Homo sapiens: one gene and its partners. The protein of the gene in region 6 interacts with the protein of the main gene of each other region in a pairwise test. Each region holds a gene or a part of one and is shown on either strand. Other genes may lie near its edges. The genes, in order: SLAMF7, ZNF835, HNRNPR, EIF4ENIF1, RNF8, CLK3 and NKAPL.

Evidence for each region.
Region 1: the proteins of CLK3 (region 6) and SLAMF7 interact in a two-hybrid assay, tested with the Homo sapiens proteins (one large-scale study listed by BioGRID and IntAct).
Region 2: the proteins of CLK3 (region 6) and ZNF835 interact in binary tests that used the Homo sapiens proteins (3 or more experiments, as listed by UniProt).
Region 3: the proteins of CLK3 (region 6) and HNRNPR interact in a two-hybrid assay, tested with the Homo sapiens proteins (one large-scale study listed by BioGRID).
Region 4: the proteins of CLK3 (region 6) and EIF4ENIF1 interact in a two-hybrid assay, tested with the Homo sapiens proteins (one large-scale study listed by BioGRID).
Region 5: the proteins of CLK3 (region 6) and RNF8 interact in binary tests that used the Homo sapiens proteins (3 or more experiments, as listed by UniProt).
Region 7: the proteins of CLK3 (region 6) and NKAPL interact in binary tests that used the Homo sapiens proteins (3 or more experiments, as listed by UniProt).

The regions. Positions count from the first base shown.
Region 1 is NC_000001.11:160,745,239-160,749,490, forward strand, and holds part of SLAMF7 (SLAM family member 7 isoform a precursor), read left to right. Parts: intron 1-2,955; coding exon 2,956-3,276; intron 3,277-4,252. UniProt on the Homo sapiens protein: Self-ligand receptor of the signaling lymphocytic activation molecule (SLAM) family.
Region 2 is NC_000019.10:56,664,826-56,669,077, reverse strand, and holds part of ZNF835 (zinc finger protein 835), read left to right. Parts: intron 1-3,832; 5' UTR 3,833-3,879; coding exon 3,880-4,252. UniProt on the Homo sapiens protein: May be involved in transcriptional regulation.
Region 3 is NC_000001.11:23,320,026-23,324,277, reverse strand, and holds part of HNRNPR (heterogeneous nuclear ribonucleoprotein R), read left to right. Parts: intron 1-545; coding exon 546-722; intron 723-2,614; coding exon 2,615-2,750; intron 2,751-4,252. UniProt on the Homo sapiens protein: Component of ribonucleosomes, which are complexes of at least 20 other different heterogeneous nuclear ribonucleoproteins (hnRNP). hnRNP play an important role in processing of precursor mRNA in the nucleus.
Region 4 is NC_000022.11:31,479,487-31,483,738, reverse strand, and holds part of EIF4ENIF1 (eukaryotic translation initiation factor 4E transporter), read left to right. Parts: intron 1-4,252. UniProt on the Homo sapiens protein: EIF4E-binding protein that regulates translation and stability of mRNAs in processing bodies (P-bodies). Plays a key role in P-bodies to coordinate the storage of translationally inactive mRNAs in the cytoplasm and prevent their degradation.
Region 5 is NC_000006.12:37,356,231-37,360,482, reverse strand, and holds part of RNF8 (E3 ubiquitin-protein ligase RNF8), read right to left. Parts: intron 38-4,252; coding exon 1-37. UniProt on the Homo sapiens protein: E3 ubiquitin-protein ligase that plays a key role in DNA damage signaling via 2 distinct roles: by mediating the 'Lys-63'-linked ubiquitination of histones H2A and H2AX and promoting the recruitment of DNA repair proteins at double-strand breaks (DSBs) sites, and by catalyzing 'Lys-48'-linked ubiquitination to remove target proteins from DNA damage sites.
Region 6 is NC_000015.10:74,618,561-74,622,812, forward strand, and holds part of CLK3 (dual specificity protein kinase CLK3), read left to right. Parts: intron 1-636; coding exon 637-788; intron 789-1,448; coding exon 1,449-1,665; intron 1,666-3,559; coding exon 3,560-3,656; intron 3,657-3,933; coding exon 3,934-4,000; intron 4,001-4,252. UniProt on the Homo sapiens protein: Dual specificity kinase acting on both serine/threonine and tyrosine-containing substrates. Phosphorylates serine- and arginine-rich (SR) proteins of the spliceosomal complex.
Region 7 is NC_000006.12:28,257,694-28,261,794, forward strand, and holds NKAPL (NKAP-like protein), read left to right. Parts: upstream 1-1,603; 5' UTR 1,604-1,678; coding exon 1,679-2,887; 3' UTR 2,888-3,265; downstream 3,266-4,101.

The DNA of each region.
Region 1 (4,252 bases), on a different chromosome or scaffold from region 6:
TGGTAGGGCAGTTTATGCTTGAGGGAAGGTCACCAGAGGACAAGAAGGGAAATTATGGTCCAATGGCACCCAAGGGCTTTGAAATTGACACTAGAGTCCCTTAGGGGGATGGAGAAGGGGAGTGAGGGAGAAGGCTGGAGCTGGTACAAACGCCAGGGGGCCTTCAAATTGAGCCATAGTGAAAACAGTCCAGGTCCCAGAGCTGGAGAGACATTGGGTTAAATCCTCAAATCGTCACCTGCTAGCTTTGTGCCCTTGGATAAGTTACTTAGCTGTTGTTATTTGTTGTTGTCGTTGTTTGAATCTCAATTTTCTCATGAAGTCAGGAGTTAGCAAATTTTTTCTGAAAAGGGCCAGAGAATAAATATTTTAGGCTTTACAGACAATAAATCATGGTCACAATTATTTAACTCAGCCTTTGTAGTGAAAAAGGATCCATAGACAATATGTAAATGAAAGAGCCTGGCTGTGTTCCAGTACAATTGTATTTACAAAAACAGGCAGTGGACCAGATTTAGCCTATGGGTTATAGGTTGCTGATCCTTGTGTAAAAGGGTCAAAATGCCTAATTTGCAGGATTGCTTTGAGTGTTAGGCATACTCTTTACAATAAACGTTTGGTGCAGAATAAACATTTAATACATGACAACTCTTATAATTTGGAAACCCTTGCCAAGATATTTGATTTTAACAGGGACCAAAGAAATAAATCTCTAATGAAGCAATTTTTGATATCTGGATATGTCTGTATAGGAATTTGTCCTTTTACTAGAAAAGGCATGAGTTACATCAGTACTGGAGTAGAAGAAAAGATTGTGTCTAAGAGAGCAGGCTGTGAAATGAAACAGAGCCTGGATGCTTGGTCAGTCTCACAGGGCCAATTACACACAGGAGACACTGTACATAAGGCCCACGATAGTTTTAATTTTAATTTCTTTTAAAATCAGAAGAGAAATGAATATAGCAATAACAATAACAATGAATATATAATGAATCCAGCCCGGATCACATTCATTTTATACCAACACAGTCATGAAATATGATTTTTAATATTTCTTATGGAAGAAGGACCAACAAGGTCAAAAGTACACAGGAACCACAAAAGTCACCATGTAGCCTTGCAGTAGCATCATTAGAACTGTCAGGATCCTATAGCTTGGCTGTTTTGTTGGCTTTGCTTCTTTCATTTGTGCTTTTCATGACTGAATTAATAAAAATTCCATTTAAAAATTTCACCCTGACACTTTATGTTAAGAGGCAGAAGGGGAAATAACTTTGGGTTTTGTACTTTTAAGGAGAACACCTTTGTTGACAGCTGATGTGAGACCTCAGTTCTTGTCTACTTAGTTTAAAAGAATTTATATGAGAGATACACAGCAAAGGAAATACAGCATAGGGTAATTGATTGCAAAAGAATAAGAATATTTTGACAGTTAAGTGCAGAAAAGACAGTACATTCTGAGAGAAGGAAAATTCAGGGTGGGCTGCCCATAAGGATGAGACAGCAAAGACTGGCACTGGGGAGACCCCCTTTATGGGAGTCTTACATGATTATTCATAAGAGGGTGGGAAGAGGTGTTACTAGTAACCATGTTCTTGGTGGTCCTCTGGGTGGACGTGCACAGTAGCTATACATGCTTCTTCATAAATCTCGTGTCTCATTAGCATCTTAAATCTCCACCCATGGGTGTGTTTTTTACTATTATAATGAGCAAAGGGTCAGTTTGAGAACAAGTAAAATCAAAATCCGCATGCTCTCTACAGCGGAAAGTCCTCACTGAAGATAGCTTTGCTTAAATGAGCTCAATTACAATGTGAATGCTGAGGCTTATTGTATTGACTGTAGGGTCACCAGAGTTACTGCCTCCTGAGAACACTGTTACTTCCTTGACTACCTAACCTGCCTCACCTTTAAGGATTTAGTCTTAGTTTTTGTATTTCTATCAGCCTTGAATAAGTTCTTATCATTTCTACTATTTAGTTTTCTCATCTATAAAATATGCCCTTCAAGGTCTCGACCCTGTGGGTTTTGGTGTGTACTCTGCCTCTTACTAGGTGGCTTGAGTAAGTCATTTACCCCCACTGTGCCTCACATTCCTGATCCGTAAGATAGGGATATAAAGAATGTTTCTTCAAAAAGTTGTTTTAAGAGTTAAACAAGGCTGGGTGTGGTGGCTCATGCCTGCAATCCAGCACTTTGGGAGGCAGAGGCGGGCAGATCACTTGAGGTCAGGAGTTCAAGATCAGCCTGGCCAACATGGTGAAAACCCCACCTCTACTAAAAACACAAAAATTAGCTAGGTAAGATGGCACACACCTGGACTCCCAGCTACTCAGGAGGCTGAAGAAAGACAATCACTCTGAGGCAAGACAATCACTTGAACCCAGGACGTGGAGGTTGTAGTGAGCTGAGATCGTGCCACTGCAATCCCGCCTGGGCAACAGAGTGAGACTCTGTCTCAAAAACAAAAGTGTTAATCAAGATTATAATTTATGCTTTTAAACTGCTAGTCCCAAACTAAATTCTCTCACTGCTCTGTGTTATTCCCAGAGTCTGTCTCTCAAGTTTAATAGGTAAGAATAAGATGACTTACTCCCCACATCTGTTTACTGGTAATGCTCAGCTGGCCACTTCTGGAAGTTTCTTCAGCAGACATTCTTAACTGTTTTTCACCTACAACCACATAATCAGTGATGATTTTTTATAAGTCATACTCTCTGGGAGTGAACTAAGATTGTTGTGATACATAAATTTCTAATATAATGCTTCCATGTGAGCACTTACATAATAGGGTAACATGTGAGGGACCTCTATATGAGGTTCCAAAGGCTTTTCCAGGAGGTTGTTGTGTTGGACTGAGTGGGTTTCTCAGATCTCTCCAGGACCCAAAGGGGGTGAGTAATTGGTGACAAGGACAGGGAATCAGGCTTATTTTATGGTTCTCTGTGTTTATAGGGTCAGCAGCCTCTGGACCCGTGAAAGAGCTGGTCGGTTCCGTTGGTGGGGCCGTGACTTTCCCCCTGAAGTCCAAAGTAAAGCAAGTTGACTCTATTGTCTGGACCTTCAACACAACCCCTCTTGTCACCATACAGCCAGAAGGGGGCACTATCATAGTGACCCAAAATCGTAATAGGGAGAGAGTAGACTTCCCAGATGGAGGCTACTCCCTGAAGCTCAGCAAACTGAAGAAGAATGACTCAGGGATCTACTATGTGGGGATATACAGCTCATCACTCCAGCAGCCCTCCACCCAGGAGTACGTGCTGCATGTCTACGGTGAGCAAAATCAGTTCCAATGGTGGATGGCTGCCTTGGTGAGGTGGTGAGCTCCTTGACATGAGAGATGTTTAAGCAGAGGCTGAATAAACACTTGGCAAGAATGTGGGAGAGGGGACTTCTGCATGAATGAAATAGATGTAGCTGACCCCTGAGGTCCCTGCCTACTCAGAGATGTTGTAAGAAGCAGCGTGGTGCAGTGGATGGCTGATATGTGCAGTGGCCATCGCATAGATCAAGGTCAAATGCTGGCTTCTTTATTTAGTCACATGACCTTAGCCGAGTTATTTAATTTCTTCAAGTCTTAGTTTCCATATCTGTAGTGGGGAGGAAAGAAATGCCTACCTTAGGAAGATTTTTGGGCAAAATATCGATCACATCTCTTTCTCTACAGATTACAACCAATTGATAAATAGATGCAAGAAGGAGGGGATTAAAATATCAGCATATTTCTGGTAAATCTAGACAGGAGAAATGCTTCCTTTCAATTCTAGACCTTGGCACTCATCCAGGGAAGTTAAAATTATGAAACAATGACTCAAACTTCTTCAAGAAGAATAGCTGCTTCACTCACTGAGCCACAGTATCAGGAACCTTAGGGGATGGGCCTCCAGACTTGCTTGTAGGAGGTAGGCACTGCACCTGATCCAGGTGTGTCTTCCATATAGACATGGTTGAAGGGAACAGAAGATATGTATTCTGCAGGCTAACTAGTCAGGGGAGGAAGAAAAAGGGCAAAACACATTTTAACTGCAACCTTTAACGTCTCAAACCCATGAGTAGAGAAAGGTAAATGATGAATGTCAGACTCTTACCATCTCACCAATGAACCAACTACTCATTCTCTGAGGCAGGGGAGTGAGCACAGAGTAGAGAAGGGGGCCAGAAGGGCTACTCCAACACAATTTTCTCCTAGAGAGTAAAGTGAACTCTCATAGAGAGTAAAGGGAAGCCTGAGGACAGAGACTAGGGAACC
Region 2 (4,252 bases), on a different chromosome or scaffold from region 6:
AGATTGGAGACTTGGTTGTTGGTGTGGAGAAAGCCCACGTGTCAGAAGTGCTGGGAGTAGACAGCTTTCTTCTACTGCCCCCAAGCAAGCCTGTGTCTCCCCTTGGGCTCCTTTGTGTGTGCACAACACCCAGGTTTACCCAACCCCGCTGTGAACCCACCTGCCCTCCCCCTACACACGAGGTGGGTACCCCTGCACACTCCGGGGATGCCGGTGGACGTGGCACCTGAGCCGACCCAGCCTGGCCCCCACCAGCAAGTTCTTACCAGCACACGTGACTTCCTGTGTGAGCTGACCCCCACCCCACTCTACCGCATCTCCCCTGCCTTGCACCTCAGTTGCTCTGTCCAGCCCCACCCCCTTTACCTTTCCTCTGCCACCCTTGTCACCATCCTGCCCTGGGACCTTTGCACTTGCTGTGTTCTCCACCCTGAACACAAACATCATCACTCCCTCAGGGTCTCCTCTTGTCCTCTTGCTGAGGCACACGCTGCGGGAAGAGCATGTCAGGCAGAAAGAATAGCCCACACAAAAGCCCTGTCTTGACCAGGTGTGGTTGGTGGTGCCTGCCTGTGATCCAAGCCCTTTGGGAGGCTGAGGTGAGAGGATCACTTGAGCCAGGATTCCCAGGCTGCAGCGAGCTATGATTGCAACACTGCACTCCAGCCTGAGCAACAGAGCAAGACCCTGTCTCAAAAAAAAAAAAAAAAAAAGCCCTATTTTAGGTCCTTTGGGGTGTGACGGAATGCCATACTCTGGTGGCTTAGAAACAGCATTTATTGGCCGGGCACAGTGGCACATGCCTGTAATCCCAGCACTTTGGGAGGCCAAGGTGGGTGGATCATCTGAGGACAGGAGTTTGAGACCAGCCTGACTAATATGGTGAAACCTCATCTCTACTAAATACAAAAAATTAGCTGAACATGGTAGCGCATGCCTGTAATCCCAGCTATGCAGGAGGCTGAGGCAGGAGAATCGCTTGAACCCGGAAGGTGAAGGTTGCAGTGAGCCAACATTGTGCCACTGCACTCCAGCCTGGGCACCAAGAGCGAAACTCTTATCTCAAAAACAAAACAAAACAAACAAACAAAAAAACAAAAAAAGAAAGAAAGAAAGAAACAGCATTTATTTCCACACAGTTCTAGGGGCTGGAAGTCCAAGGTCAAGGTGCCGGCAGGTTTGGTGTCTGGTGAGGGCTGCTTCCTAGTTCATAGACCGGGCCCTCTTGTTGTGTCTTCATTTGGAGGAAGGGGCAAGGGAGCCTTCTGGGTCCTCTTTTATAAGGGCAGGAATCCAACGCCTGAGGGCTCCAGCCTCATGTCATCATCACCTCCCAGAGGCCCCACCTCCTAGCACCACCACAAAGGGTTAGGATCTCACACAGGAAGTGGGGAGGACAAGCTTCAGACGTAGCCTGTCCAGCAGCAGCAGGAGTGTACCCGGAGGAGCCAAAGGCCGAGCACTCTCTGCTGTATGCACACAGCCTACTAGTTGGTTCAGGGAATGCCTGTGTGTGAGGGGCTGAGCCCACACATAACATGAGGCCAAGCTTGCTGAGAGACCTGCCATGTCCCTCGGGAGAAGGGGAGGCTGGAGCCCTGTTTAGAGAGAGAAAACCAGGCAGAGCCTCAGAGCAGGTAGCCACTTACCTGCAGCCACACAGCCTGGAAAGGACCTCCCAGCAGTGTGAGCCCCCTCCTCTGGGGCTAGCCCCAGCACAGTGGATCCACAGGCAGCTGCCTCCTTCCCTCTCTCAGCACCAGGAGGTCATTTGTCCATCTGTCTTCCCATTCTGTTAGAACTAAAGCATCAGAAGTCAGTGGTGAGTTTCTCGCCAGCGTGCAGGTCCAGTGTACACCAGGCAATTGGTATAAATCCTTCAGCATCACAGCCCCACTAGAAGTAACTATATGTATGGCTTCTGTTATGGCTTTCTAAAAAACAGTGACTTCCTGGGCTCATATAAAAACAGATCCCTGCTTTCCACTGAAAATGTGCAAAGCAGACAGGGTAACCTGCAATAGCTTGAGATCACCATCTCTAACGACCCTGGGCCCACGAGCCAGCATGAACCTCTGAGCCTGGGAGACCCTGGGCAGCTCCTTCACTGATGGAGCCCTGTAGAAGGGGAGCATAGTGAGTTGAATAGTGTCCCCATAATGTGAAATCTGGGATCACTGTTGGCTGATTCTGTCTGGTGAGGGCTCTCTTCCTGGTTTACAGATGGCCGCCTTCTCCCTGTGTCCTCACACGCAGAGAGGACAGAGAGAGCAGAGAGTAAGTGAGCCCCCTGGTGTCTCCTCTTATAAGGACGCTAATCCTATTAAGGAGGATGCCCTCATGACCTAATCATCCTCCAAAGGCCCCACATCAAACGCTGTCACACTGGGAATTAAAGTTTCAACTGATTTTTCCCCAGAAAAGAAAACTGTCTTTCCAGTTATCTTAGCTCCAGCTTACAAAAAAAATCACAGATTAGGTGGCTGAAGCAATAAACACTTATTTCTTCACAGTGCTAGAGGCTGGGAGTCTGAGATCAGAGTGCCAGCATGGTCAGACCACACTGAGGACTCACTTCCTGGCTTGCAGACGGCTGCCTTCTTGCCATGTGTTCACCTGACAGACAGCGAGCTCTGGTGTCGCTTCCTCTTCTTATCAAAACATTAGTCCCAGCCAAGCGCGGTGGCTCACGCCTGTAATCCCAGCACTTTGGGAGGCCAAGGTGGGTGGGTCACCTGAGGTCAGGAGTTTGAGACCAGCCTGGCCAATATGGTGAAACCCCCTCTCTACTAAAAATACAAAAATTAGCCGGGCATGGTGGCGTGCACCTGTAGTCCCAACTACTCAGGAGGCTGAGGCAGAAGAATTGCTTGAACCCGGGAGGCGGAGGTTGCAGTGAGCCAAGACTGTGCTCCAGCCTGGGCAACAGAGCAAGACTCCATGTCAAAAAAAAAATAAAACAGTCCCATTGTGGGGGCCCCACCCTCATGACCCCCTCTAAAGCTAATCACCTCCCAAAGGCTCCATCTCCACAAAGCATCACCTTGGGAGTTAGGGCTTCCATGTATAAATTTTGAGGGGGCACAATTCAGTTCACAGCACCAGATTACAGGGCCATATTTTAAGAGCTGACAGATTCATGCTTTTTTTTTCTTTTTCAGGGATCTTTTAAATTTGTTTTTAGTTCCATTAAGTCAGTGATTCCCAACTGGGGGCAATTTTGTCCCCAGGGGAGGGGACACCTGGCAGTGTCTGGAGACTTTTTAAAGAAAATTCAGACAGGGTCTCACACTGTCACCCAGGCTAGAGTGCAGTAGTGTGATCACTACTCACTGCAGCTTCAACCTTCTGAGCTCAGCTGATCCTCTTGCCTCAGCCTCCTGAGTAGCTGGGACCACGGGTGCACAACATCATGCCTGGCTAATTTTTTTTTTCATTTGTAGAAATGAGATCTTGCTGTGTTGCCCAGGCAGCAGACAGTTTGCTGGTCTCAAACTCCTGGGCTCAAGCAACCACCTGCCTTGGCCTCCCAAAGTGCTGGGATTGCAGGCATGAGCCACCACGTCCGGCCTGGAGACATTTTTCATTGTTACAACTCAGGGGTTGAGGGGTAGTGTCCCTGGCAGCCAGTGTGGAGAGACCAGGGACGCTGCTCAACATCTCACAACACACAGGATGGGTCCCACCACACCAAATTATTGGACCCAAAATGTCATTGGCACAGAGGTCCAGGGACCCCATGCTAAGTTCTTACCAGTTCAGCTGTTAGCCATTTTTCCAGCTCAGGACAAGTGGCAACATTTAATTTTTTTTTCTATCTTTTTCTTTTCAGACCCAGAGAAAAGATGTGAGATCAAGACAGCAGCCCAGGGATCGAGGATGGAGGGACTCTTGAGCGTCGCCCTCCAGGGCGCAGAGTTGGAAGGAAACTGGAAACACGAGGGCCAGGTTGAGGACCTGCAGGAAAACCAGGAAAGCTGTCCAGAGCCAGAGGCCGTGGCCTGCAAGGGAGACCCTGCTGGGGACAGCATGCAGGAACGCGATGAATTCAGCCGAATCCCAAGAACCATATCGAGCCCTGCTGCTACCCAAGCCAGTGTCCCCGACGACAGCAGTTCCCGGAGGTGCAGCGCGCCTGGGGAGAGCCCGAAGGAGAGGCATCCTGACAGCCGCCAGCGGGAGAGAGGTGGAGGCCCCAAGAAGCCGTGGAAATGCGGGGACTGCGGGAAGGCCTTCAGCTACTGTTCAGCGT
Region 3 (4,252 bases), on a different chromosome or scaffold from region 6:
TTTTAAGTAGTAAAGATTTTAGAGTTGAGGAGATAACTTGAGGAGAGCTATGTCAATCTTTTATTCAATTATTTTATTTTTATTCATTTTTATTTTTAATTTATAAATTAATTTTTTAATTTTAAATAATAGAAATGGGGTTTTGCCATGTTGCCTAGGCTAGTTTTGAACTCCTAGACTCAAGTGATCCGCCTTCCTTGGCCTCTCAAAGTGCTAGGATTACAGGCGTGAGCTGCTGCGTCCAGCCTCCTTTATTCTGTTTTTATGAGAAAAAGTCAAGTTATAAAAATTTAAAATTTAGAGTAAATACAAATTTTACACTCTTATTAGTTTCCATTTTTCAAGAGACTTGTTCTTTGATAACCCTAAGGTCATTATAATAAAAATTAGGATTAGCTCTGCAAGTCAACTGTAAGTTTCAGATTGTTTCCATTCTTTCTTAACCATCTTCTTCTGCCCCCATCTTTAAAAAAAAAAGGCAGTAGGCTTTATGGCTCTAAAATCAAATGCTTATGTTGGATTCTAATAAGGGGGTTTTATTTCAGGTATTTGTAGGCAAAATACCAAGGGATTTATATGAGGATGAGTTGGTGCCCCTTTTTGAGAAGGCCGGACCCATTTGGGATCTACGTCTTATGATGGATCCACTGTCCGGTCAGAATAGAGGGTATGCATTTATCACCTTCTGTGGAAAGGAAGCTGCACAGGAAGCCGTGAAACTGGTATGTGATAATTATCCACTGTCTTAGCAAGTCACTATTTGAGGAAATAAACTTTAATTCAAAAATGTTTGTAGTTAACATTATTTTGATTTCTTCAGTTGTTGCTTGGAATGTTTTTATACTGACCAAGTTGGTATGTGACGTTTATTTTTCTCTGACTATAAAAGTAAAAAAGAACTGAAAATACCCAAAAAGTAATGTTTTATAGAAAGTCTCCCATTGATTTAAGAAGTTATCTATTAGATTGATATCAGAAGTTTCATATGAGTATTTGGCTTATGCATTTCTGTCTTTTGGTTTTAGGCAAAAGGATGTCAATTCTTGATGTTAAACTTTAGGATTCTTAAAGTATAATGAAGACTGGAATGGGCTGTGGGGAACATAATAGTGGATGACAGTGACTTAGGATTCAATTCAGAAAATAGTTGTGAATCTGTTTTATTTTGGTTACAGCCTACTCATACGATTTATTTCATATTTTCTAAGTGTATTTTTGTTCTTCCTGTATGTTTCTTGGCCCTTGAGTCTTCTCTGTCTTTAATCTTTCTCTCCTCTCCTACTATTTATAGCCAGTCTCATATTAATTTCCTTTCTCTAGGGCCTTTAACCACTTGGTGCTCATTTCAGACCAGTAGTAGTAGCAACAAAGTTCTGCAAATCAAATGTATCTTCACTCCTGCTGTATTTAAGACACAGCTATCTCAGTATCTTAAAATAACAATGTAATTATTTTTTGGCATACCCTTGCCTGACTTCTGAGGACCTCACTAAGTCTAGTTCTAGCCTTTGTAGAATGGTCAACTTCTTTCATCAAGGCTTTGGTTTCATTACTGGTGTCTGAATTAGTTCCACTCCTAGCTTGACCCAGATTTTAGTTTTTATTATGGATTTTTTCTTCAAACTTGTTTATTTAATATTAAGTTTTCATTTTTGGCAGCATATGGATGATTTTATTTTTAATAATCATATCTCTTAGTAAACTAATGGTTAAATAATATTAAAGTATAAGAAGCTAAAATTGGCCAGGTGTGGTGGCTCACGCCTGTAATCCCAGCACTTTGGGAGGCTGAGGCAGGCAGATCACCTGAGGTCAGGAGTTCAAGATCAGCCTGGCCAACGTGGTGAAACCCTGTCTTTACTAAAAATACAAAAATTAGCTGGGCGTGGTGGCGCACGCCTGTAGTCCCAGCTACTTGGGAGGCTGAGGCAGGAGAATCACTTCAACCCAGGAGGTGGAGGTTGCAGTGAGCAAAGATCATGCTACTGCCCTCCAGCTTGGATGACAGAGCGAGACTCCATCTTAAGAAAAAAAAAAAAGGGCTACAATTTATCAAGAAAATCCACTATAGTGATTTAAATAAAACATTTTTCAAAATTTTATAAAATTTTGAAAGTATTGTGTTTGGTAGACAATTTAAAACTATATATTTAGAATTCTGTGACTTCTGTAGAATTTGAAATTTTTCTAATATCTTTGCATTGATTAAACATAGTTGTTACCCTTTACATATTGTTATTTTGAGTATGGCTTACCTATATGCAATTACATTTCCAAGGACCCTGAATGATCAGTCTCAGGTATTTTTTTCTGAAAAATCTGTGGAAAAACATTTTCAGATAGATAAAATTAAAATATGAAATAAGATATTTTAAACAATAAAGTGAGTCCTTTTTATATGGAAGAGTAGTGAAGGTTAACAAAACCAAACTAAAACAAGAGACTGTAACAATGAAGTTTAAAATATACATTCATATTATGGAAAGCATGAGGGAACTTGGTGAGTTGATGAAGCAGGGAGCGTTTGGCCTTAAATTGTTGAATTTTTTAGATTAAGATCAATTGTCCTGAGTTTGGGGTGGTTTTGGGGTCTCTGGTTCTTTTCTTATTGCAGTGTGACAGCTATGAAATTCGCCCTGGTAAACACCTTGGAGTGTGCATTTCTGTGGCAAACAACAGACTTTTTGTTGGATCCATTCCGAAGAATAAGACTAAAGAAAACATTTTGGAAGAATTCAGTAAAGTCACAGGTAAAACAAAAATGTATTTAGAAATTACTTTTGCGAAATATGTTGTACTACTTACAAGTGCTCAAAAAAACTGAGGGGTTGTATGTATTAAATTAAGAATTCAGGTCTGAAGTATCTAAATTGCTTCCTTTCTGCTTTATAGTGGTTTGGGTTTAAGCAAGTTCCCTTATATCCTTCATTTCTTGGAATGTCCCCTTCACTTCTTTGTCTTAATTGAACCTTGGCTTTTGCTGGAGCTTTTGCTCTATAGCCCTCAAGTGAATGCTTTTTTTCCCCTTGACAATTAGTGTATTTTAGGACCAAGAGGATGAAAGTTTTTACTCTCTCCCTGCTGCCTTGTCTAGATCAGATTTTTTTTTTTTTTGAGACGGAGTTTCGCTCTTGTTGCCTAGGCTGGAGTGCAATGGTACGATCTCGGCTCACTGCAACCTCCGCCTCCTTGGTTCAAGCAATTCTCCTGCCTCAGCCTCCCGAGTAGCTGGGACTAGCATGTGCCACCACGCCTGGCTAATTTTGTATTTTTAGTAGAGACGGGGTTTCTCTATGTTGGTCAGGCTAGTCTAGAACTCCCGACCTCTGGTGATCCTCCCGCCTCGGCCTCCCAAAGTGCTGGGATTACAGGCGTGAGCCACAGTGCCTGGCTGATCAGATTTTTTTAAATATCCAATTCTAAATCCATGGAATTGATTGAGAAGTAGATTTTATATCACAGTTCTATACACATTTATATATAACTGAAACAATTTAACAAAACTGTACTTTTATTTATTATACATGATTTATTTTGATATTTCTTATTCTATTTCATTTTTTAAAATGCCAATTGTGATCTAATACTACCTATGATTTAAAAACACTGCGTTAGACCGCTGCCTCCCCTTGTAAAAACCACTGTTTCTTTACATTTTTATCATCCAGACATATCCTTTCCCTTTTGTTGAAGCTGTCATTCGTTGCTCTTGTGGTTTCAGCCTTTCATTAATCTAAAGATTGCTTCTGGCTCACTGTCTTCCTCTTCTGCCCTAAATTGGCTTCTTTCTAATACCTTTAACATCTACATTGGTGAACCATCCAGGGCTTTAGACTCCTACCTACTTCTATGTCTACCTCATCTTTAGTCCTTTACTTCAGCTCCACCATATCCAGATTACATTCTGGATCTAGTCACCAGAAATTCTATGCACTCTGAACTCTTGATTTCTAGCGTCCCACTTTGTAACCACTGCTACCACCCGCTATATTGTGTTGTCAAGTATTGTGTTGTCAACTGCTGGCACAGTTCTTTGACCTCATCACTTTATTATCTATAGCTCCTTCTGGCTTCATGATCATTTATTCATTCTTTCAGCAGGTGTTTATTAAAGTTCCTGTTAAGTGCTGGCATTGTGCTATGTGCCTGGGATACACTGATGGCTAAGAGACATATTCTCTGCTTTCATAGATCCTATATCCTGAGAAAGGAGATAAGACCAAGAATATAAAAAATAAAAATTAAAGGAATA
Region 4 (4,252 bases), on a different chromosome or scaffold from region 6:
CTGAAAGTTATGGTTTAAGAGTGGTTTAGACAGTGGTTCTCAAAGTGTGCTCCCTGAACTAGCATTAGCATCATCTGGTAACTTGTTAGAAATACAAATCTCAGGCCTCTTCTCAGTGGTATTAAAGGAGAAACTTGGGGAGTAGAGCTTAACCGTCTGCATTTAACAAGCTCTTCAGGGGATTCTGGCTCTGGTTCAAGTTTGAGAACCATTGGCTTAAGAAATGATCACCTGCTCGCTGGGTGTGGTGGCTCACACTTGTAATCCCAGCAGTTAGGGAGACTGAGATGGGAGGATTGCTTGAGCCCAGGAGTTCAAGACCAGCCTGGGCAGGATGACAAGACCCTGTCACTACAAAAAAAATTTAAAAATTAGCTAGGTATGGTGGCGTATTGCCTGTAGTCTCAGCTACACAGGGGACTGAGGTGAGAGAATCGTTTGAGGCTGCAGTGAGCCATCATCGCGCCATTTCACTACAGCCTGTGCAACAAAAAGAGACCCTGTCTCAAAAAAAAAAAAAAAAAAAAAAGATCGTCTCCTGGCAGTGGTGCTCATTCAACTTTTTCTTCACCAGAAGCCCTTGTTCACCAGTTCTGGAATATAGTACCTGCTATTCTGTTAGTGATGCCATCTTCTGCTTGAAATACAAAATAGAAATGTTTTAGGCCATCCCACTATTCAGATCCATGTGGTTTTCTTTTCTGTTTTTTTGTTTTGAGACAGAGTCTCTGTCTGTCGCCAGGCTGGAGTGCAGTGGCCCTATGTCGGCTCACTGCAACCTCTGCCTCCCGGGTTCAAGCAATTTCCCTACCTCAGCCTCTTGAGTAGCTGGGACTACAGGCGCGTGCCTCCATGCCCAGCTAATTTTTTTTACATTTTAGTAGAGATGGGGTTTCACCATGTTGGCCAGGATGGTCTCGATCTCCTGATCTCATGATCCACCCACCTTGGCCTCCTAAAGTGCTCTGATTACAGGCGTGAGCCACCACGCCTGGCCTCACATCCATGTTATTTTCGTCAAGTGAATAGACTAATCTGTTTTTTTTTGTTTGTTTTTGAGACCGCGTCTCACTCTGTCACCCAGGCTGGAGTGCAGTGTTGCAATCTTGGCTCACTGCAACCTCTGCTTCCCAGGTTCAAGCAATTCTCCTGCCTCAGCCTCCTGAGTAGCTGGGATTACAGGCACGTGCCATGATGCCCAGCTAATTTTTGTATTTTTATTAGAAACGGGGTTTCACCATATTGGTAAGGTTGGTCTCAAACTCCTGACCTCAAGTGATCCACCTGCCGTGGCCTGCCAAAGTGCTGGGATTACAGGCGTGAGCTACCGCACCCGGCCAAATAGACTAATCTTATAAAGGATACATACGTTATGCTGTTCTTCCTTTGCTCCTGTGTTTTGCCACTGATTCCTTATTAAATGACTGTCACCTGCCAGTTGGACAGGGAATAAAAGCAGAGACACTCAGAACATTCAGCTTGATACTGACCAGTGTTAAACATGCGTATTAAAGTTAAGTGAATGTTGAATTATCTTAGTTTAACTTCATGTGGAATTTTTTTTTTTTTTTTTGAGACAGGCTCTCACTGTTATCCAGGCTGGAGTGCAGTGGTACAGTTAACTCACTGCAGCCTCGAACTCTGCATTCATGCGATCCTTCCACCTCAGCCTCCTGAGTAGCTAGGACTACAGGTGTGTGTCACCACACATGGCTAATTTTTTCATTTCTTTGTAGAGATAGGATCTCATTATGTTGCCCAGGCTGGTCTCCAACTCCTGACCTCAAGCGATCCTCCTGCCTCAGCCTCCTAAAGTGCTGGAATTCCAGGTGTGAGCCACTGCATCTGGCCCCATGTGGACTCCTCATAACCTTGACTAGTTACAAAGTGGCATTATTGTAGTCATTAGTGTCTCCAGGGATCTTTAAGGGAGGCCATCCTAATTTGTGGCTGGTAGGCCAATTGGTCATAGCAGTCAGTACAGCCATGTTTGTCTTTCCTTTAAAACAATCAGGAAAATGGACAAGCAGTTGAAGTGACTGACTTGAGTCATCCTAGCCTTCTTGGATATAATCAGAAGACTTGAAGCCAATCCCCAGAGAAAAGAGTAACTGATTTAAATCCTAGGTTGAAACAGGAATCAGGTGGTCCCTTTTTCCAGTACAGAAATCTTATTTGATAACTAAATGTATCTTTTATAAACTGAGTAGTAACTCAGGTGGCATTTCTGTGACAAATTTAGGTATAAACTTCTTAAACTAATTTAAGGATACCTATTTATGTTGGAGAAGGTAGAATTATGGTATGAAAAGTCATTGGGAGGACAAGGTGGGAGGATGAATTGAGTCCAGGAGTTCACGACCAGACTGGGCAATATAGTGAGACCCCATCTCGTTAAAAAAAAAAAAAATTGCCAGAGGTGGTGGTGTGCACCTGTGGTCCCAGATACTCAAGAGGCTAACGTGGGAGGATCACTTGAGCTTGGGAAGTTGAGCTTGCAGTGAGCTATGACTGCACCATTGCACTCCAGCATGGGCAACAGAGTGAGACTCTGTCTCAAAGGAAAAAAAAATTATTCAATCTTAATGTGTCAACTGTCCAGAAAACCTATCTTACTGGAAGTTGTTAGAGCAGGCTGGCTGGCAAGACCATAGAGAATAGCTTCTGACTGCTTTTTCCTACCCGTTCCTTTTTTGTTATTGTTGAGACAGAGTCTTGCACGATCTTGGCTCACTGCAACCTCCACCTCCCAGGTTGAAGTGATTCTCCTGCCTCAGCCTCCTGAGTAGTTGGGATTACAGGTGTGTGCCACCATGCCCAGCTGATTTTCTTTTTTTTAGTAGAGACGATTTCGCCATGTTGGCCAGGATGGTCTCAAACTCCTGACCTCAAGTGATCTGCCCACCTTGGTCTCCTAAAGTGCTGGGGTTACAGACGTGAGCCACTGCACCCGGCCCCTGCCTGTTCGGTTTTGTTTTGTTTTCAGAGGGAGTTTTGTTCCTGTTGCCCAGGCTGGAGTGCAATGGCGTGATCTTGGCTCACCACAACCTCTGCCTCCCGGGTTCAAGCGATTCTCCTGCCTTAGCCTCCCGAGTAGCTGGGACTACAGGCGCACGCCACCATGCCCGGCTAATTTTTTGTATTTTTAGTATAGATGGGGTTTCTCCATGTTAGGCTGGTCTCAAACTTCTGACCTCAGGTGATCTGCCCGTCTCACCCTCCCAAAGTGCTGGGATTACAGGCGTGAGCCACCACGCCCGCCCAGGAATATTTCCCTTTTAATCCCCCTTCCATAAATGTGACTTATGTGAAATTCTACATAATGTCAGAAGGTCCATCAGAATGCATAGTTGTTTCTGCATAGGATTTCTGCAGAAAGAAATGGATAAGGATTTTAACCATTGTTCTTTTGGGCTTTTGTTGAGATTCATTTGCTTTCCACTTTAATAGTGATCACCAAAAGTGGGTGTTCATACTAGTAATTCCCCAATAGGTTTTGGGAGCCTTGACACATTTTCTTTAAGGAAGGCTGCTGCAACTAAGAAAATATGTTTATGCTTCCTTGGGTGTGTGGCTCTTGGGCAATTAGCAGCTTGTTCTTGCCTAGTCAGGTTTTAGTAACCTGTGCAAAAAGTGAAGTCTCAGGTATTAACTCTTATATTCGCCATATGGTAATCTTAATGAATTCATTCGTGATCAGTAAGTTCCTATGGGTTAAGACTTTCCAGGCTAGGCACAGTGGCTCACACTTGTAATCCCAGCACTTTAGGAGGCTGAGGCAAGATGATCACTTGAGCCTAAGAGTTCAGACCAGCCTGGGCAACACAGCAAGACCTCATCTCTACAAAAAATTTTTTAAATTAGCTGGATGTGGTGGCATGCACCTGTAGTCTTAGCTGCTTGGGAGGCTGAGGCAAGAAAGATCACTTGAGTCCATGAGTTTTGAGGCTGCAGTGAGCTATGATCATGCCACTGCACTCCAGCCTGAGAGTGAGAACCTGTCTCAAAAAAAAAACTCCAAAAGGATAGATTAAAAAAAAAAAAAAAAAAACACCTTTCCAAAAGGGTAATATCACATCCTTTCTTGAAATACTCATAAGAAGGAAGCACTCCTAGTTAGAGTGGCCACTTCCCAAGTATTCTGTCTTTAGCCATAGTTGAACGTTTTCTTTGAAAATATCCCAAAGGGGTATTTCCACGAATAATGTTAAGGGCTCTTGATGAGATGGCAAGTTTAAGAACTCTTTTCATG
Region 5 (4,252 bases), on a different chromosome or scaffold from region 6:
GTTGGTATGTGACACCAAATCCTCGTCCTACAGTCACCTGGGAGACAACAACAATGCAAGAAATACCATCAGTCATTGTGCTGAAAAGGGAGGTCCTTTACAAATCTCATCAACCAGCAGCATATGCAGGTCCTGACTTAAGAAACCAGACACCTGTGGAACCAAAACAGTGCATCAGCTATCTCCTCTTCAGCTGTCTTGAGAACCACCAAGTAGAAAAAGGCAAACGGTTGTGACAACAAGAGAAAGCTGAAAAAGAGTTATCCATGTATCTCAGGGTTGCCAAGATCTTGAAAGGTCATCTGGTTCAATGACTATGAGATAGAGGAATTCTTTCTACACATCCCATCAACGCATAAATACTGTCAGTAACTTTACATAAGGCAGGCCCTCCAATTTTTAAAATGTCTCTGACTTGGCATTTTTCTCCTTGTAAATTCCATCCATTGGCCCTGGCTTTGCCCTGGGCACCATCGGGAAATCTCCAATCCCCTTTCAATGGCACAGATATAAAGTGAACACTGAGTTTTCTCTTTTCCTGGTTCTGTATTCCCAGTTACTTCAACTTAACTCCCAGGGGATGGGCTTGAGCCTTTGCCATTCTAATGAGTCTGTGAAGGGACTGCTGGTTTATCTTTATTCCTGGATGGCATATTAAGAAAAATAAACTTAATTTCTATTACACAGTCAAACGCAAGTGTTACTTTCCCAGTTCTAGATATTATCACTGGAGCATATAAATTGCATTAGCTTTCATAGCAGATCTAGTACACTGCCAGTGTATCCTCGAACTTAGGAATGATTAAATTTCTTGGTCTCCCCCTCCTCCAAGAAATGCTATCCTAAGTCCTGTCTCTTCTGCTCTATACTTGACTGGATGGAAAACCTTGGATTCAAGCGCAGGACCTTAGATTGATTCCTATTAAATTTCATCTTGCTAGTTCAGCCTATCAAACCAATTTGTCAAGACCTTTCTGAATTTTTAATCTGCCATCAGATCAGACATACTTAATATCTCTTCCACCAAATTTATGAGATGATGCCTTCTATACCTTCGTTCAAGACACAGAATGGGATGCAGCCAAAGGCAAAGTTTTCAGGAAAACCTAGTAAACATTAACCCACACCATCTGGATATACCTTCAGCCAGTTATAATTCAACCAAAAGTCTTTGCATTGGAGTACATATTCTCTGTCTTATCCACAAGAACAGCTTGAGAGCTTCCGGAAAAGGTTGAAAAGAAGCCCCAGTTCACATCTATCATACTTTCCTGTTGGACCAGTCTAGTTCATAACAACCCTGTGAAGGAAGGAAATGAAATTCTTCTGAGTTCCAGATCACAGAATTCCCTTATTCTTTTTTGTTTGTTAATTTTTTTTTGTTTTTTTGAGAGAGTCTTGCTTTATCACCCAGGCTGGAGTGCAGTGGCACGATCTTAGCTCACTGCAACCTCTGCCTCCCGGGTTCAAGCAATTCTCCTGCCTCAGCTTCCACGTAGCTGGGATTACAGGCACGCACCACCACACCCAACTAATTTTTGTATTTTTAGTAGAGACGGGGTTTCACCATGTTGGTCAGGCTGGTCTCGAACTCCTGATCTCAAGTGATCTGCCTGCCTCAGCCTCCCACAGTGCTGGGATTACAGGTGTGAGCCACCGCGCCCGGCTCCCTGCATATTCTTCTTAGTGCACAAACGACCTCTTTAATGTCCCATATCACAACCTTAACTGGGAACTTTAAACCAAAGTTAGCTAAAACTGCCCTCTTCTCTTCTCTTTAAAATCTTTCAGAATGCCTGTCCTCCTCAGTCCCTCAAAGACCACCACGACTCACTGACCTAATCTATTCCTCCCCACAAACTCTTATCTCAGTATTCACAATACTATCCAACCAACTACTCAACCCATAACCCAGAAGCCATCTTTGATTCATCTCTGTCCCTCATCCCCACATTGAAATCACTGGTAAATTATATGGGCTATAATTCAAATATGTCCTAAGTCTGTTCATTCCTATCTCTGCAGCCACAGCCTTAGTCCAAACCACCTGGCCTCCTACTGTTTCTGTTCTCACTCTAGCCCCCATAAGCTTTATAATAGTAACTGGAATAGAAATGTAAAAATTTTAAATCAGGTCATTTTCCTTCTTTCCTTAAAACTGTCCAATCATTCAAACTTCCTTCCATGGCCTATAAGACCCTGAATGTCCTGAGCCCTTCTACTCTTTAGTCTTAACTCATACCATAGTGCCAACACTAGCTGCTCCAGCCCCTCAAACTTTTTTGTTGTTGTTGTTCCTTAAGCCCATCTCCCCGAAGTGCCAGCCTACCTGAGGGTCTTTTCACTTAGCCCCTCTGCTAAGAACACTCTTCTCTCAGATCTTGCACAGGCTCCTTATCTTTCATGTTCCAGCTACTCATAAGCCTACTCTGATTACCTCTGTCTAAAGTTGGTTGTCTGCTTCCCATCATATTTCTTCAGTTATTAGGAAGTACTTATCACAGACCAAAATTATCTTGTTTATTTTACTTTTCCCCTCTGTCCCCGTAATAGAATATAAATTAGATAAGCAGGGACTTTATCTGTCTTGTTTACCACTGTGTTTCTATACCTGGCATAGTGTTCAGTTAAGTATTTGAGAATGAATGAAAGAATAAAGAGGTCTTGCATATGAGTCCTCAAGATTTTAGGGTGGGTGTTTTTAGGTCAGAAGTTAGAGACTGTATTACCATTGGAAAATATGGAGCAGCAGTTGGAACTCATACAGTCTCACTTGTTTCTCTTTAAAATGTTGTGGTGATCACTCCACCAACACTGAGCACAAAGTTTTTCAGTTCTTTCACACTCTGCCAGAATTATATTAATTATAGAAGTTCCTCTGAATACACATATCTGTTAAAAATGGAATGGCTAGGGATTTATCTGTCGTCCATATTCAGTAAAATTTCTATTTAGGTAGCTTTATCTCTAAGAGAGGAAGCATCTCATATTACATGCTAATACTTGAGGGGAGACAGCCAGACTGCCATTGTGAGTAGCCAGGGGAAAACAGTACCAAAACAGTAGAAGAGTGCCTTTTCCTGACATTGCCTCCAACAGACTCTGAACCCAGAAAAAGGAATCATTCTTTTACATCCTTCCCTGCACTGCCTGGTCTTAGAATTTACCTTGGTACTACTGATATTTCACCTATACTGTAGTTAAAGAGTGCAGTGAGGTTACCTGGAAATCTCAGGACCACTCAACATAACACTGAATTTCCCGTGGGAACTGACTGACGACCCATATGTGAGGGGTTGTTTTCATTTACAATAGTTTTGCAAGCCTTTGAGCTTACACACATTATTGATCTAAAAGATCATCCTGTCTTTGCCCACCTTCACTAAGACTATCTCTTTCCTCCTGGGCACAATTCCTACTGTTTCTCAAATAACAAGTAAATCTGGCCAGGTGTGGTGGCTCACACCTGTAATTCCAGCACTTTGGGAAGCCCAGGCGGGCGGATCACATGAGGCCAGGAGTTCGAGACCAGCCTGGCCAACATGGCGAAACCCCACCTCTATTGAAAACACAAAAAGTAACTGGGCATAGTGGTGCATATCTGTAATCCCAGCTACTTCGGAGGCTGAGACAGAAGAACCACTTGAACCAGGGAGGTGAAGGTGTGATCACACCACTGCACTCCAGCCTGGGTGACAGAAGGAGTACTCTGTCTCAAAACAAAACACCCCACAAAAAAGCCCCCAAACCAGTAAATATAACCATCCTTTCCCTTTTTTCCCTTGGGGCAGAAAACTTAATGAAAACTAAATACAAGAGAAGAAAAGGGGAGAGAAGGTTCTGTTGTTTTCCCCAAAGGCCTAGATACTTTATAGTACCTGAGAACTAGCTAATTTGCAATAAATCTCTACTTGTTTTTCCACCAAACTCTATGCATTGCTTTAACAAGCTTAAAGCCACTTAATTAGACAATTTACTACAGTGTTCCCATCAATGAAATGAAAGGAACCCTGTTTTATTATTTTATCCACAACATCTGAGACTAAGAACTGGAAAGGCAGGGAACTGACCTACCTTTGCTGTTATGTTATTAGCGTATCTTTTAAAATCTTGTGCAAAACAGCTTGTGCTATGATTTGGGGACCATAACAATAAGTACAACTTCTTCTCTTGCCTTTGATTCAGACTTCTTTTCAGGCTATGCTACGACCTGACCTTGCAGGCAGCCAAGCCTGGCAGGCTTCTCCTACAC
Region 6 (4,252 bases):
TGACCCTCAGGAGGGCTATGGAATGTTTGTGAGGCCTGTGTGCCTCTTTCTCCAAGGGCTGCTCTTCTAGTCTCTTGTGGCTCCTCATGCTCACTTGTGGTCCTTACTCCCTTGAGTGGGGTCCAGTTCAGGGCCCTAGCCAGACAGCGTTCAGCTTCTCAAACTTGAGGGCTTTGAGCCCTCGCCTCCTGTGTACAGCCCTTTGCCTGGCCTTTGGCTTTACAGAGCATTCACTTCACGGGACCGCCCCCCCGGGCGGGAGGGAATAGAGTGCAGGAGGCTCCCCTTTCTCCTGCCTTTGATCTCCCTGTGGTAGTGTTCACCGTCCCCACCCAGGGTTACTGCCTCAGCCCCTGGCCCTGGCTCACCCAGTTCCCTGAGCACCCAGGCCACCAGGCTAGTGATGCTCTGCTGGGAGCTGTTTGTTTGTTCACTGGCAGAGAAAGTTGTTTCCTATTGTCTGCTGTTTGACCAGTGTGACCTCAGAGTTCTTCTTCACTTCATAAACCTCTGGGAGGGGCCGCCTTCAAACAGAACAATGGGCCTCTTCAGGAGCAACCGGGAAGCCCCAGCAGCCCCATGGCTGGAGGTGGCTGGCTGTGTGTTTAGCAGGGCTCTCTGTTCCTCGTGGCCTAGATGCATCACTGTAAGCGATACCGCTCCCCTGAACCAGACCCGTACCTGAGCTACCGATGGAAGAGGAGGAGGTCCTACAGTCGGGAACATGAAGGGAGACTGCGATACCCGTCCCGAAGGGAGCCTCCCCCACGAAGATCTCGGTCCAGAAGGTGAGAGGGAACTAGATAGGAGGGAAAGACTCCTTCTGTCAGCTGGGCTCAGCTGTGGCAGCTCCAGACTCCTTGAGATGACTCCATCCCTGCCCAGCTGTCCCTGGATCCCTGCCCTGTCCTCTTTGGGCTCCTCCACTAACCTCACCTGCATGCCTTGGCCTCAGCAGTAGCTACCATCCTTGCCGCCCACTCTTTCTCTGTCTTGGAGTGCCTTTTCTTCTCCCCACACATTCCCCCATTTTCTAGGCCAGCATCTTTCCGCTTAACCTCCTAAGCCTTCCTTGGTGAGGATTAGGAACATAACCTCACCCCTGGAAAGTTTGCTCCCTGGGCCTATCTTAGCTCCCAGGTCAAACTTAGAGTTGCAGCAGGCCACAGGGAACTCTGGAAGGGTATAGAACCCTTGGAGGCACTCTACCATACTCCCCTTCCCCTGTACCCCTCCTCCTACAGCTGGAGGATGCTGTCGTTGGACAGGGCTCTGGAGGGCGGGCTTAGTACCTTTGCACCCTCCCCTCTCTGCCCACTTCCCACCAGTGTGGATGCTTTTAGCACAGGCTGTCCCCCTTTAGCCCTTTACAGTGGCCTTACCACAGGTCTCTTGCTTGCTAACAGCAAGGACCCAGCTGACCAGCGTCCCCATCCCCCTTTTGGCAGCCATGACCGCCTGCCCTACCAGAGGAGGTACCGGGAGCGCCGTGACAGCGATACATACCGGTGTGAAGAGCGGAGCCCATCCTTTGGAGAGGACTACTATGGACCTTCACGTTCTCGTCATCGTCGGCGATCGCGGGAGAGGGGGCCATACCGGACCCGCAAGCATGCCCACCACTGCCACAAACGCCGCACCAGGTCTTGTAGCAGCGCCTCCTCGGTGAGTGGTAGCCAGAGTGTGCTGGCTGGGGCTTAAAGGCCTCATCTCTTCCTAGCCTTCTCTCAGGCTGGCTGGTCCGGGTGAGTACTGCCAGCCCTGTGCACGTGCACTGGTGTGCGTGCATGTGTGTGTGTATGTGTTGTCTGGTCCAGGTGTAGGGCTGATCACAGGGTCCTGGCCTCTGTGTCTTCTGGCTCTTTCCAGTGGCAACTGTAGGAACTCTGGCTCCGATGCTGGCTGGCCCCTGGCCTGTCTATGTCTACACAGTGCTCCAGACAAAGGCCACGTGGTGCAAGTGGCTGGGGACACTTCTTAGGACACTTCTTAGGGATCCTAGTAGAGTGGCTGGTATGGTGGTCTGCAGCTATATGGCCTGGTCCTTCCCACCCAGAGACTGCCTCCTCGTGTAACTGAGTGCTCTGATGTGGACTGCACCCACCTCTGCGTCTCATCTGCACACCCCTTCCCAAAGGCCCCCAGTCTGGAGTGCCTCACAGGACCGGAGGATTTGCCTGTCAGCCAGCTCAGACTGGGAACTTCCCTTCTGATCTCCAGCCAGGCCCTCTCCAGCCGAGCCTCTTTACGAGGGGCAGTCGCGGTGAGGAGGGGCAGGTGCCTGTGTGATGGGGCATGTGAAGAAATGGCAGAAAGGCTGCCGCCCCAGGCCTCGTCCAGTTGCAGGCCACATGCCCAGAGCAGGGCCTGGCCAGTATTCCTAGCATGGAGGGTTGTAAGGTCTCTGGAGCCCACATTGCGCTCAGTCCCCTGGGGAAGCAAAGCCAGTTGTGTATTTCCGAGGTTACGTGCGGTCTTCTCTTCTCCCCCATCCCTCTTCCCTGCCTCCCTCCTGCCGGCCTTGAGGCCCCTGAGGAGCAGTGGAGAGGCCAGGTGTCTTCTCTGCCCAGCGCTTTCTGTGACTTCTTTGAGTGGCTACAGGTTGAGGGTTGACTGTGCGGGCGATTGCAGCGTGGCCCTTTCACCTCTTTGCACACTGCCACATGCTGCCACAGGATGGCAGTGCAGGTCTGGCTCTGTTTCTCTGTTTGGTGCCCTCTATCGATCGTCGTGAGGCTTGGGATGGGCCTAGATTGTGAGCAGCATGGGTGCCAAGGCCAGGGCAGGAGCTGGCATGGGGCCTGTGTGGGCCATTGTGGTAGGAAGCCTGGCAGTCGACTGGCCCAGAGGATCCCAGGCTGCTTTCCTTCTTGAGGCTGGTGGCAGGAGGGCTGCTGACGGAAGGCTGTTTCTGGTAGTGATGGTGAAATCTGGCCAAGGATGCCGTCTGGAGGCAGGTAGCAGCTTGGCTGTGAGTGGCAGCTGTCAGGCATGTGCAAGTCTGCGTGGGCGAACAGAGGCAGGCAAGGACAGGCTGGGCATTCTGCAGCTGAAGCCGGAGCAGCCGCTGACCAGTCTGGATGGTTGGACCCAGGCGGGGCCAGCTGCCTTCTTGCGCCGCCGTTCTCACTGCATCTTCCGCTCTGGCCCAAAGCCACATGGGAGGGTCTGGGAGGGAGAGACTCGGAGGAGGAGGAGGAGGGAGTCGGGGCGATGGCTCTCCTCACAGCGTGGCCCTCAGCAGCAGAGGCAGGTCATCTTCCTGAGCGTTTGTGGCGCTCCTCTTAAAGATAATGTCCGAGTTTTCTTTACATACCTGTAGCTGTTTTTACTTTTCTGTTTTTGAAGTCAGTTTGTGTCTTGACGTGTCCCTTGCAATATCCCTATCGTTATATATGCTGTGTGCCTTATGAAATGCTGGGATCTGGAAAATCCAACCAACCAACCCACCGGCTCCTCACCGTCTCCACCTCTGCCTTTGACTGACACCTCAATCTGTCAATCGGAACCGCCTACCATGCGATTGGTCGGATGGCGTTTCGGGGGGCGGTGCATGCAGAGAAGCCAACAGAGCAGTAAGCGCAGCAGCCGGAGTGTGGAAGATGACAAGGAGGGTCACCTGGTGTGCCGGATCGGCGATTGGCTCCAAGAGCGATGTACAGCCACCTTTCGTAAAACTTTACCTCTCTACTTTCTACCCCCCTTGTTAGACGAGACCTCTCCTGCCTGGAGGGGCCTCTAGTGCGCGTGGTGCCTTAGCGGGGCCACCAGTAATTGCCTGAATGACACAGACACTAGCAACTTCCATTTTTAAGAGTGTAGCAGTGAGAGAGAAACCTTTTTTGTTTTTGAGAATTTGAATGCTGTGAACTTGCAGGAGCTGCCAACCCCCTGCCCTCCAGATTCTCATGCCCAATTTCTTTTCTCTCCTAGATGAGATTGTGGGGAACCTGGGTGAAGGCACCTTTGGCAAGGTGGTGGAGTGCTTGGACCATGCCAGGTGAGCGAGCTGCGGCAGTACAGCTGGCTCCGGATGTGATCTTCCTGGGAAGAGCTGGCCTGAGGTTCTTGAGGGTGGCAGCTATCAGAGCTTAACTTTTTTCTTTTTGAAGGGTGGCATCAAAGTAGGGTTCCGACCTGTCCATGTTGGGGTTTTGCTGACCCCCTGTAATAAGGGAGAAATTCTTGGGTCCTGCAGTTATGTGGCATCCCTACCCAAGAATTGTTGGTCAGTGAAAGGTTCTGCTCCAAT
Region 7 (4,101 bases), on a different chromosome or scaffold from region 6:
AAAATATTTACTATTGGCCTTTTGCAGAAAAGGATTGCCAGCCCCTAGTCTAGGTCATAACTTTTCTAAAGATCAAAAATATATTCTAAATTTCATTTTCCTGTGTCGCTACCTGAAAGAAGTATTTCATCAACCAGCTTTGTAATTCAAGTCTACATCAGATACTAAATGGCTTAAATTTACAATTATCCAAGTAAGACATATCCATTTCATTGGCCTATCAAGTAGTTTATAACTCCAAAAGAAAATTTTCTTTACTTACACAAACTCTATAGTACTCACCCTATCCATATGATATTTTCACTATACATGTGACCATTCACATATAATACTCCCTGCTGTTTACCAGTTCCTAAATTCATATAATTTATGTATGGAACCAATTCTTATCCCCTTCAATCAAAGTACTAAAATTCTACTTAGAGCAAATGATATGATTTGGTCTTATTCAATTTAATTTCCCCCATTTTGTTGTTTAGAGTTCTAGCATCAGGAAGGCATCATTCTTAAGTTTTGACCTGGCTGTCAAACAACTGAGCAGATCAACTTAATTAGAGAGAACCAAGATGATGTTAATGCCTATTTACATTTTAAGATGAGAGATAAATGATCTTGCATAAAACGTTTATCATTTCTGAGAGTGAGATCTAATGTGTATCGAGAAAGTGGTTTCCAAACTACAAAGTTTCTGAAGAAGTCTCCCTAGATAGAAAGACATCTGTCTACAAGATCGAGTGGGATGCTTCTGTGTGTTTCTAGGGTGGAAAAGTCTGTGAATTTAATAATTAAAATCATGACTCTGGGCCGGGCATGGTGGCTCACACCTGTAATTCCAGCACTTTGTAAGGCTGAGGTGGGAGGATCGCTTGAACCCAGGAGTTTGAGACCAGACTCAGAAACAAAGTGACAACGGTCTCTACAAATAATTATTAAAAAAATCAACCTGGCGTGGTGGTGGGCACCTGCAGTCCCAGCTCCTCGGGAGGATCTCTTGAACCTAGGAAGTCAAGTCGGCCCTGAGCCATGATCGTGCCACTGCACCCCAACCTGGGCGACAGAGTGAGATCCTGTCTCCAAAAAAAAAAAAAAAAAGTACGACTTTGGCCTTCACCTAGCTTAGAGGGTGAGCTCAAACTGATTCCAAAAGAAGTTTTGGTTCTTGCTTCCAGTGGTAACAAGGGGGGTTGGGAAGTGATTAATTAAACATATTTCCTCCACGAAGAGGGTGGACAAGTTCCTTTTTTAGGAAGGAAAAAAGGAGGAGCGTTGGTAGTAGGGATCTTCCACAGAGGGGTAAAGTTAAGGAGGTGGAAATGAAAGGGAAGAACAAAGGGTGAGAAGCAAAATGGTAAAAGCGAAATCGAAAAAGAGAAGTGGGTGTTCCAACAGTAGAGGGGATCATTGACGCAAATTCGTCCTTTTATGTTCCCACACGGCTCAAGTTGGGGAATATAAGTCCTAAAAACAGGCGCACCCTAATCCTACCTACTTCCCACAAGAAGCCTTCACGCAGCCAAGGCCCGCCCCACATAGCACACGCGCGGATTCGTTTTCCGTTTGGTAACTGACAGGAAGCGGAAGCCGTGCGTGGGAGGCCGATTCTAGTGCGCCTGCGTGGCCGCGAATCACCAGCCAGCCTCTGGGTCTGTAGCAACCGCCCAGCGTTGAGGCGCGGCTCATGCCCCCAGTATCCCGGTCCAGCTATTCCGAGGACATCGTGGGCTCTCGGAGAAGGCGACGCAGCTCCTCGGGGAGCCCACCATCCCCGCAGAGCAGATGTTCCTCTTGGGATGGCTGTTCCCGCTCTCACTCCCGCGGCCGTGAGGGCCTCAGGCCTCCTTGGAGTGAGTTGGACGTGGGCGCTCTTTACCCCTTTAGTCGCTCTGGGTCGCGAGGGCGGCTCCCAAGATTCCGCAACTACGCCTTCGCGTCCTCCTGGTCGACCTCGTATAGTGGATATCGCTACCATCGTCACTGCTATGCAGAAGAACGGCAGTCAGCGGAAGACTACGAGAAGGAAGAGAGCCATCGGCAGAGGAGGCTGAAGGAGAGAGAGAGGATTGGGGAATTGGGAGCGCCTGAAGTGTGGGGGCCGTCTCCAAAGTTCCCTCAGCTAGATTCTGACGAACATACCCCAGTTGAGGATGAAGAAGAGGTAACGCATCAGAAAAGCAGCAGTTCAGATTCCAACTCGGAAGAACATAGGAAAAAGAAGACCAGTCGTTCAAGAAACAAGAAAAAAAGAAAGAATAAGTCGTCTAAAAGAAAGCATAGGAAATATTCTGATAGTGACAGTAACTCAGAGTCTGACACAAATTCTGACTCTGATGATGATAAAAAGAGAGTTAAAGCCAAGAAGAAAAAGAAGAAAAAGAAACACAAAACAAAGAAAAAGAAGAATAAGAAAACCAAAAAAGAATCCAGTGACTCAAGCTGTAAAGACTCAGAAGAGGACTTGTCAGAAGCTACCTGGATGGAGCAGCCAAATGTGGCAGATACTATGGATTTAATAGGGCCAGAAGCACCTATAATACATACCTCTCAAGATGAAAAACCTTTGAAGTATGGCCATGCTTTGCTTCCCGGTGAAGGTGCAGCTATGGCTGAGTATGTAAAAGCTGGAAAGCGAATCCCACGAAGAGGTGAAATTGGGTTGACAAGTGAAGAGATCGGTTCTTTTGAATGCTCAGGTTATGTCATGAGTGGTAGCAGGCATCGCAGAATGGAGGCTGTACGACTGCGTAAGGAGAACCAGATCTACAGTGCTGATGAGAAGAGAGCTCTTGCATCCTTTAACCAAGAAGAGAGACGAAAGAGAGAAAGTAAGATTTTAGCCAGTTTCCGAGAGATGGTGCACAAAAAGACAAAAGAGAAAGATGACAAGTAAGGACTTACTTGTTGCACAGCAGGAATTTTAACAACAAAAATTTTATGTGACCAAAAGTGTTAAAAGGCTTTACAGTGCTACTGTACTTACCATATTAGTAAGTCCCTCAGGAAAAAGCTTCTTTTGAGATATCTTTAGCAGCTTATTTTTTGTTATTTTAACTTTAAAAAGTAATATGTGCACATGGTTTTAAAAATATTCAACCATTATAGGAGGAGAGTTAGTAAAAAGTGAATCTTTCACTTTAGCCCCTGACACCTTTCCCCCAAAAATATATATTTTGGTGTCTTATATACAGAATATACATTCTGTGCATATACAAGAGTATATGTTGCAGCATAAAGATTAAAAGCTATTAAAGTTTTTTTTCGCTCGTTACTCTTTTGCCATTCATTTGCCCCGGGGGGACCAAAAGAAGCCCAGAAAGAACAAAGGATTCAATCAAGTGTATACTTCTACTTTCAGTTAATAGACTGGCTTAGAAAATAGAAAAGATTTAGTGGCTCTTACAAATGAAAAGTCTAGAAGAAGGATGGATTTTCTGCATGGCTTTAATTGGACATTGGCTTTCTTCTCCACTTTTTTTCCAAGGGTCATTTTCCTTGGGCTGGTTTCCCTTATATAACAAAAAGGCTGCCAAAGCTCCTGATTTTGGTTATCTTTTTTCTGGTCCATCTCTGAAGAGAGAACATTTCTTAGTTGCTAATCCAAACAAGAATCCAGAGATTCACCATAATGGGATAAGCTTGGGTCACATGCCCACTCAAAACAAGTGTTGTTGCTTAGGAAATAGAATGGCTTATCTGTGGAGTCATAGACCAGTTATAGAGGAATGGATTCTTGAATGAAAATCAGGGTAATTTTGGGCAAGGGGGATAGACAACCATAGACGCGTACTACAGTTTCGAATGCTTTTTTAAAAAACGTATAATGAAAGTACATGTGCTAAAAGTGAACATTTTCTTGAAGAAAAACTTGGCTTCGACTATTAGAAGTCAGATTCTAATTTAAGAGGATATAGGGTTTATTCATAAAAAGAGATATAAAAGATGGAGATCAGAGTGCTTGAGTAGATTAGGGCCACCTAGACTAGCAAGAGAAAGAAAAAATGATAAGGTATAAAGAAGAAGGCCCAGGCATGATGGCTTGCCTGTAATCCCAGCACTTTCGGAGACTGAGGTGGGAGAATTGCTTACGGCTAGGAGTTCAAGAGC